Homo sapiens: one gene and its partner. Changing the gene in region 1 together with any one later gene gives a genetic interaction. Each region holds a gene or a part of one and is shown on either strand. Other genes may lie near its edges.

Region 1 (4,018 bases):
CACGATGCCGGGTGGGGCCTCAGGGGTGTTGAGATGTGCAGGTCGGGAGGACCCCGATAACGTTTCCTGGTTAGTGATGGGTGCAGGGGGGCCGCGGGAAGTGACTGTTACAAGTGAGAGCCCGAAAGCAAATCTGCCCCACAGCAGCCGGTGCGTTGGCAGAAGTCATCGCCGTAAACTGCAGTGGAAGCAAGACGGGGTTCAAGATGCGGCCCAAAGATAAGACGCAGCACTTGGTCGAGTGTTCACAGCGTCAAGACAAAGGACGGGCCGGCGCGGTGACTCAGGCCTGTAATCCCAGCACTTTGGGAGGCCGAGGTGGGTGGATCATGAGGTCAGAAGTTAGAGACCAGCCTGGCCAACATAGTGAAACCCCATTTCTACTAAAAATACAAAAATTAGCCGGGCATGGTGGTGCACGCCTGTAGTCCCAGCTACTTGGGAGGCTGAGGCAGGAGAGTTGCTTGAACCTGGGAGGCAGAGCCTGCAGTGAGCCGAGATCGCGCTACGGCACTCCAGCCTGGGTGACAGAGTGAGACTCTGTCTCAAAAAAATAAAAAAGGAAGGACAGTGTGACTTGGGAGGAAAATGCTGCTTGTTCAGAGGCAGGGCCGGGGTCGAGGGGGACCCCACCACTGCCATCTGCCTACTTGCCATGTGGCCAGGGCTTAGGTTTCTCTGTGCATGCCCACCTCGCAGAATTTCTGATAATTAAATAAATTAGGACATGCACACACTGAGCCCGAGACAGTGTTTTAAAGCCTTCAATAAATTTTGGCCAGTTGTCCTATTAGTATTGAAATACTTAATTTATTATTATTATTTTTTTAGATATGGGTCTTGCTGTGTTATCCAGGTTTGTCTCGAACTCCTGGCCTCAAGTGATCCTCACATGTTGGCCTTCCAGAGTACTTGGATTAGAGGCGTGAGCCACTATTCTCAGCTTTCATTTCTTAAATACAAAATCTCCTTGACTTTCTGTGAGGTTGCCTGCTGGTAACCCCATGCTAAAGTGAAAAAATCCTGCATTGAGCCATAATAAGTTAGAGACTGTATTTGGCTCTAGATGGCTGATTTTGGTCTTTTCCCCCACAAGCCAGAAGTGAGCCTGAGGGGTTGAGGGACTTGCTGCCTGTGCCTCTGAAACCTCCCTTGGGGATTGTCAGGGTACGAGTCTAGGTTTGCAGCACTGGGATGCGAGCCTTCGGTAAAGTTAGACGAGCCACGCCTGCAGTTCCAGCCTGGGGAGACCGAGGCAGGAGGCTCAGTTGAGCCCAGGAGCCGGAGGCCAGCCTGGGCAGCATAGCAAGCCTCTATCTCTACAAAAAACACACAGATGTGGTGGGTGTGGTGGCACAGCTACTCGGGAAGCTGAGGCAGGAGGCTTCACTGAGCTGTGATTGCGCCATTGTGCTCCAGCCTGAGGAAGAGAACAAGACTCTTGTTAAAAAAGTTTCATCCACATTTTCTTTTGGGAATTAATAGTATACATACATGGGGCTGGATGCAGTGGCTCACACCTGTAATCCCAATACTGGGAGACCGAGGCAGGTGGATCACCCGAGTTGAGTTTGAGACCAACCTGGCCAACAGGGTAAAACCCTGTCTCTACTAAAAGTACAAAACGCTAGGCATGGTGGCACATGCCTGTAATCCCAGCACTTTGGGAGGCCGAGGTGGGCGGATCACCCAAGGTCGAGAGTTTGGGAGCAGCCTGACCAAAATGGAGAAACCCCCGTCTCTACTAAAAATAAAAAATTAGCCGGCCATCGTGGTGCATGCCTGATCCTAGCTACTCATGAGGCTGAGGCAGGAGAATCACTTGAACCTGGGAGATGGAGGTTGCCGTGAGCCGAAGTTGCACCATTGCACTCCAGCCTGGGCAACCAGAATGAAACTGTCTCCAAAAATAAAATACAAAAAGTAGCTGGGTGTGGTGGCGTGTGCCTGTAATCCCAGCTGCTCAGGTGGCTGAGGCGGGAGGGTCACTTGAACCCAGGAGGCAGAGGCTGCAGCGAGCTGAGATTGTGCTGTTGGACTCCAGCCAGGGTAGTAATAATAGTAGTAGTGTATATACCTGGACCAGGGACGGGGATCTAAGCTCCCCTGACCTTTGTAGACAAATGGGAACTCTACTGTGTAGGTTCTTTCCTTGGGTGGACTGACCGTTTTATCAAGAATTGTTTTTATTGAGATAAAATGTACAAATCATGCACTTCCCTGAGTCGCGTGTCCAGTTCTGTGGGTTTCAGGACATTCATGGAGTTGCAGCCGTCACCACAATTGGTTTTGAGACGCTTTTCGTCTCCCAAGGCCGTTTGCTGCTGCCCATTCTCCTCCCAGTGCCTGTAGCAGCTTCCCGTGCTACAGGTCCGCCCGTTCCACACCGTCCAGTTTAGCTGCTTCCCGTGCTACAGGTCTGCTCATTCCACACTGTCCAGTTCATATGCAGCCTTTTGTTCTTTCGCTGAGCATGCGTGGAACTATTTCTAAGTCCCAGGTTTCTTTGCCATGACTTTTCCTCGCTCAGCCTCAGTGGCACGTGGAGTAGAGCAGCTTTGCGCTGGGTGTCCTGCCGAGGGGCTTGAGCCTGGCTCCCAGGGTCACGTGCAGAGGCTTCTCTATTTTTTTTCATTTTACACTGAAGCCACTTTCCATAGTTGAGCTTTCTTGCAGGATTTTTTCATTTTTGATTGAAAGGAGTCTGGTTAAGCCATCCCAAGCTTGCTTGGAGTGCCTTTGGGGAGAAGACAAGTGACTTCTGTTTCTAAGTTAGTGAATGGCCAGTCTGACCTAGTGAAGTGTCACTCAGCCCAGTGAGGGGGTCCAGGCAACAGCCGCTGGCCCAGAGGGTAGAGGAGGAGGGAGAGGCCGTTGTGAAAGGAGGGCTGGGGTGGCAGACACCGGCCTGGACAGTTCCCCCGCTCCAGGGAAGCCCATTCAGCCACATGAGAAGGTGTGTGGGAGTCTCACAGGATCCTACAGAAAGTTCATCCTGTGTACATGTAAGTTAGTGAAGGTTTACCAGCTTTTTGTGTTATGAACTGCAAAACCACTTGTCTTCAAAAGCAAGTAAACGTGTAGCTCTAAATGTTAATGTGACTGTTGTCCTGTGAAACGCAAGTGCATCTGACACTTTCCTGGGTCTCGTCTGGCCGTGCAGCTGGAGACCAAGCCTGTGTCTGGCATATACTGTTTGTACCTCTCTTGTGGATTTTTTTCTAATTACCTAATTTTTTCTAATGACGTTTGGGGTTTGGATTATTATTATTATTTGGTTTTGAGACAGGGCGTCTCTCTGTCGTGTGGGCTGCAATGCAGTGGTGCTGTCACAGCTCACTGCAGCCTGGGCATCCCAGACTCAGGTGGGTGATCCTGCCACGTCACCCTCCCCAGTAGCTGGGACCAGAGGCCTATGCCATGCCCAGCTTTTTTTTTTTTTTTTAATTGAGACAGAGTCTCACTCTGTTGCCCAGGCTGGAGTGCAATGGCACGATCTTGGCTCACTGCAACCTCCGACCCTGGGTTCAAGCGATTTTCCTGCCTCAGCCTCCCGAGTAGCTGGGATTTCAGGCATGTGCCACCACGCCTGGCTAATTTTTGTACTTTTAGTAGAGATGGGGTTTCACCATGTTGGCCAGGCTGGTCCTGACCTCATGTGATGAGCCCGCCTTGGCCTCCCAAAGCTCTGGGATTATAGGGGTTGCCACTGCACCTGGCCTGTGTTTTAAATTGCACATTTGTTCATGTCCGTCCTCTGAATTCATTGTCTTTTAGGTTAACTTCTGTGTGTGGCCACTTCCCTGTGGACATTTCCTTGTCTCAGAGTAAAATGTGGTAGACTTCTTTTTTGAGATGGAGTCTCAGTCTGTCACCCCTGCTGGAGTGCAATGGCGTGATCTCGGCTCACTGCAATCTTTGCCTCCCGGGTTCAAGCGATTCTCCTGCCTCAGCATCCTGAGTAGCTGGGATTACAGGTGCGGCGTACCACCACGCCTGGCTAATTTTGGTATTTTTA
Region 2 (3,500 bases), about 150 Mb from region 1:
ATTTAGCTGGGGCCAGGAGCGGTGGCTCACGCCTGTAATCCCAACACTTTGGGAGGCTGAGGCAGGTGGATCACTTGAGGTCTGGGGTTCGAGACCAACCTGGTCAACATGGCAAAACCCTGTCTCCACTTAAAAAAAACTAGCTGGGCATGGTGTTGGGCACCTGTAATCCCAGTTACTCGTGAGGCTGAGGCAGGAGAATCGCTTAAACCTGGGAGGCGGAGGTTACAGTGAGCCAAGATCGCGGCACTGCACTCCAGGTGTCACACTCCAGCCTGGGTGACAGAGCCAGACTCTGTCTCAAAAAAAGAAAAAAAAATTAGTTGGATGTGGTGGTATACACCTGTGGTCCCAGCTACTCAGGAGGCTAAGGTAAGAGGATCACTTGAGCCCAGGAGGTCAAGGCTGCGGTAAGCCATGTTTGCGCCACTGCACTCCAGCCTCAGTGACAGAGCAAGACCCTGTCTCAAGAAAAAAAAAAGTTGGGTGCGGTGGCTCATGCCTGTAATCCCAGCACTTTGGGAGGCTGAAGCAGGCAGGCAGATCACCTGAGGTCAGGAGTTCAAGACCAGCATGGCCAACACGGTGAAACCCCATCTCTACTAAAATAAGAAAGAAACACTAAACAATACAACCATGAAACTGATCACCGGGATTGCAAATCTAATTGGGAAAAGAGTTGAGCAAACAGCTTGGACTGTTTGGAGTTGTTGCCTTACTTTTTAATATGTATTTATAAAGTATTCCAGCAAAAGAGGATGTAGCCTCTGGGAAAAAACAAACATGTTACAGTGTTTTTTGTAGATTCTCGTTCTATATCTCATCACAGTGCCAGCCCTGTTTTTAGCCGGAAAGGATTCAGGAGAAACATTATTATGCATTCTGAACTGGATGCATATTCCTAACTACTGTATTTGTTACCAAAAGTGGTTCTACAAATGCTACTGAAAAAAATCTGGAAATTCCTAATGTCCTGAGTATTAATAATAAAGTTTAAAAATGCTTTTATATCAAAAAAAAAAAAAAGAAAAGAAAAATTAGCTGGGCATGGTGGCAGGCGCCTGTAATCCCAGCTACTTGGGAGGCTGAGGCAGGAGAATTGCTTGAACCCAGGAGGCAGAGGTTGCAGTGAGCCAACATCATGCCACTGCACTCCAGCCTGGGTGATAAGAGTGAAACTCTGTCTAAAAAACAACACAAAACAAAAAAACGCTGGGTGTGGTGGCTCACATCTATAATCCCAGCACTTTGGGAGGCCAAGGTAGGTGGATCACCTGATGTCAGGACTTCAAGACCAGCCCGGCCAACATGGTGAAACCCCGTCTCTACTAAAATACAAAAATTAGCTGGATGTGGTGGCAGGCACATGTAATCCTAGCTACTCAGGAGGCTGAGGCAGGAGAATCGCTTGAACTCAGGAGTCAGAGAGGTTGCAGTGAGCCTAGATTGCGCCACTGCACTCCAGCCTGGGCAACAGAGTGAGACTCTGTCTCAAAACAACAAAATTAAAATAAAAATTAAAAAAAAAGAAAGCTGGGCGCGGTGGCTCACGCCTGTAATCCCAGCACTTTGGGAGGCCGAGGTGGGAAGATCATGAGGTCAGGAGTTTGAGACCAGCCTGACCAACATGGTGAAACCCCGTCTCTACTTAAAAATACAAAAATTAGGCCGGGCGCGGTGGCTCATGCCTGTAATCCCAGCACTTTGGGAGGCCGAGGCAGGCTGATCACGAGGTCAGGAGATCGAGACCATCCTGGCTAACACGGTGAAACCCCATCTCACTAAAAATACAAAAAATTAGCCAGGCATGGTGGCGGACACCTGTAGTCCCAGCTACTCGGGAGGCTGAGGCAGAAGAATGGCATGAACCTGGGAGGCAGAGCTTGCAGTGAGCAGAGATCGTGCCACTGCACGCCAGCCTGGGCGACAGACAAGACTCCGTCTCAAAAAAAAATTAGCCGGGCGTGGTGGCATGCGCCTGTAATCCCAGCTACTCAGGAGGCTAAGGCAGGAGACTCACTTGAACCCAGGAGGAGGAGGTTGCAGTGAGCCGAGATTGTGCCACTGCACTCCAGCCAAGGCAACAGAGTGAGACTCTGTCTCAAAAAAAAAAAAAAAAAAAAAAGAAAGAAACACAAAGGGAGGGAAAGAGATATATGCTTACACTAAAATATTGAAAACTATTAGGAGCCCATAATTGATACATCTAATTATGGATATGCCATAATTTCTACTTTTGGACAGCTAGATTGTTTCTCATTTTCTTCTACCATAAATAGTCTTGCAATGAACATGTTATATATAAATCCCTATAAATTTTTTCCAATGGAGATTAACAGAGAAGCATTATGAATTTGACTACTATCAAACTACTTCCAGCCAGGCGCTGTGGCTCACACTTGTAATCCCAACACTTTGGGAGGCCAAGGCAGGAGGATCACTTGAGTCCAGGTGTTCAAGATCAGCCTGGGCAACATAGTGAGATCCTGTCTCCACAAAAAGTAAAAACAATTAGCTGGGAGTGGTGGCACACGCCTGTGGTCCCAGCTACCCTCAAAGCTGAACTGGGATGATTGCTTGAGCTGGGGAGGTAGAGGCTGCAGTAAGCTGTAGCCCCAACCTCACTGCAACCTCCACCTCCCCAGGTCAAGGGATCCTCCCACCTCAGCCTCCCAACTAGCTGGGACCACATGTGCATGCACCACTATGCCCAGCTATGTTTTTTTGTATTTTTTGTAGAGATGGGGTTTCGCCATGTTGCTCAGGCTGGTCTCAAACTCCTGACCTTAAGCAACCTGCCCACCTTGGCCCCGCAAAGTACTGGTGTGAGCCACCTCACCCAGCCTGATTTTCTATTTTAAGGCAAAAAAATCTGTAAGCCAAGCCAAGAATCTGTAAGCCAAGAAACAAAAATGACTAATTGTATAAGATTATAGACAGTATTTTCTTCTCTATCCTCACCTGTCTTAGCTGTTTGAGGTCTGACTTGTTTCCCACAAGAACCACAGGTGTATCGTCAGTACGTCGGACTCGATAAATAAGCTGTTTAAACTCACGAACTTCATGGAAACTTCGACGATCCGTGATAGAGTAACAGATGATAAACCCTTCTCCTGCCCTCATATACTGGTCCCGCATGGCTGTAAACTCTGCCTAGAGGGAAACAAGGGTCATTATGTATTGACGCAATCTAGCCCAACTACACACACAATTAGCTATTTCTTTCAGATTAAAGAAAACGCATGTCGATTACCTGCTATCCTGAGTCAGAGTGCATGAAAAATTAAGAGAGATAAACTATTGATCTTCTCTGTGTAGGCCTTCCCCTCCCCTTTGCTAGAGTAAAAAAGCCTTTACTCATAACATTCTGGGATTTAATACCTGTCCAGCTGTATCCAAAATGTCCAGATTGGCAGGCTCATCATCAATACGGATCCTGATCTTATAAGCATCTTCTACAGGAGGGAAGAAAGGTGTACTATAAAGTCATAAATGCCGGA

What was found.
Region 2: changes in SSU72 (region 1) and RIT1 together harm fitness more than expected from each alone (negative genetic interaction), as found in Homo sapiens cells (one large-scale study listed by BioGRID).

Annotation. Positions count from the first base shown.
Region 1 is NC_000001.11:1,557,632-1,561,649, reverse strand, and holds part of SSU72 (RNA polymerase II subunit A C-terminal domain phosphatase SSU72), read left to right. Parts: intron 1-4,018. UniProt on the Homo sapiens protein: Protein phosphatase that catalyzes the dephosphorylation of the C-terminal domain of RNA polymerase II. Plays a role in RNA processing and termination. Plays a role in pre-mRNA polyadenylation via its interaction with SYMPK.
Region 2 is NC_000001.11:155,901,350-155,904,849, forward strand, and holds part of RIT1 (GTP-binding protein Rit1), read right to left. Parts: intron 3,456-3,500; coding exon 3,382-3,455; intron 3,154-3,381; coding exon 2,962-3,153; intron 1-2,961.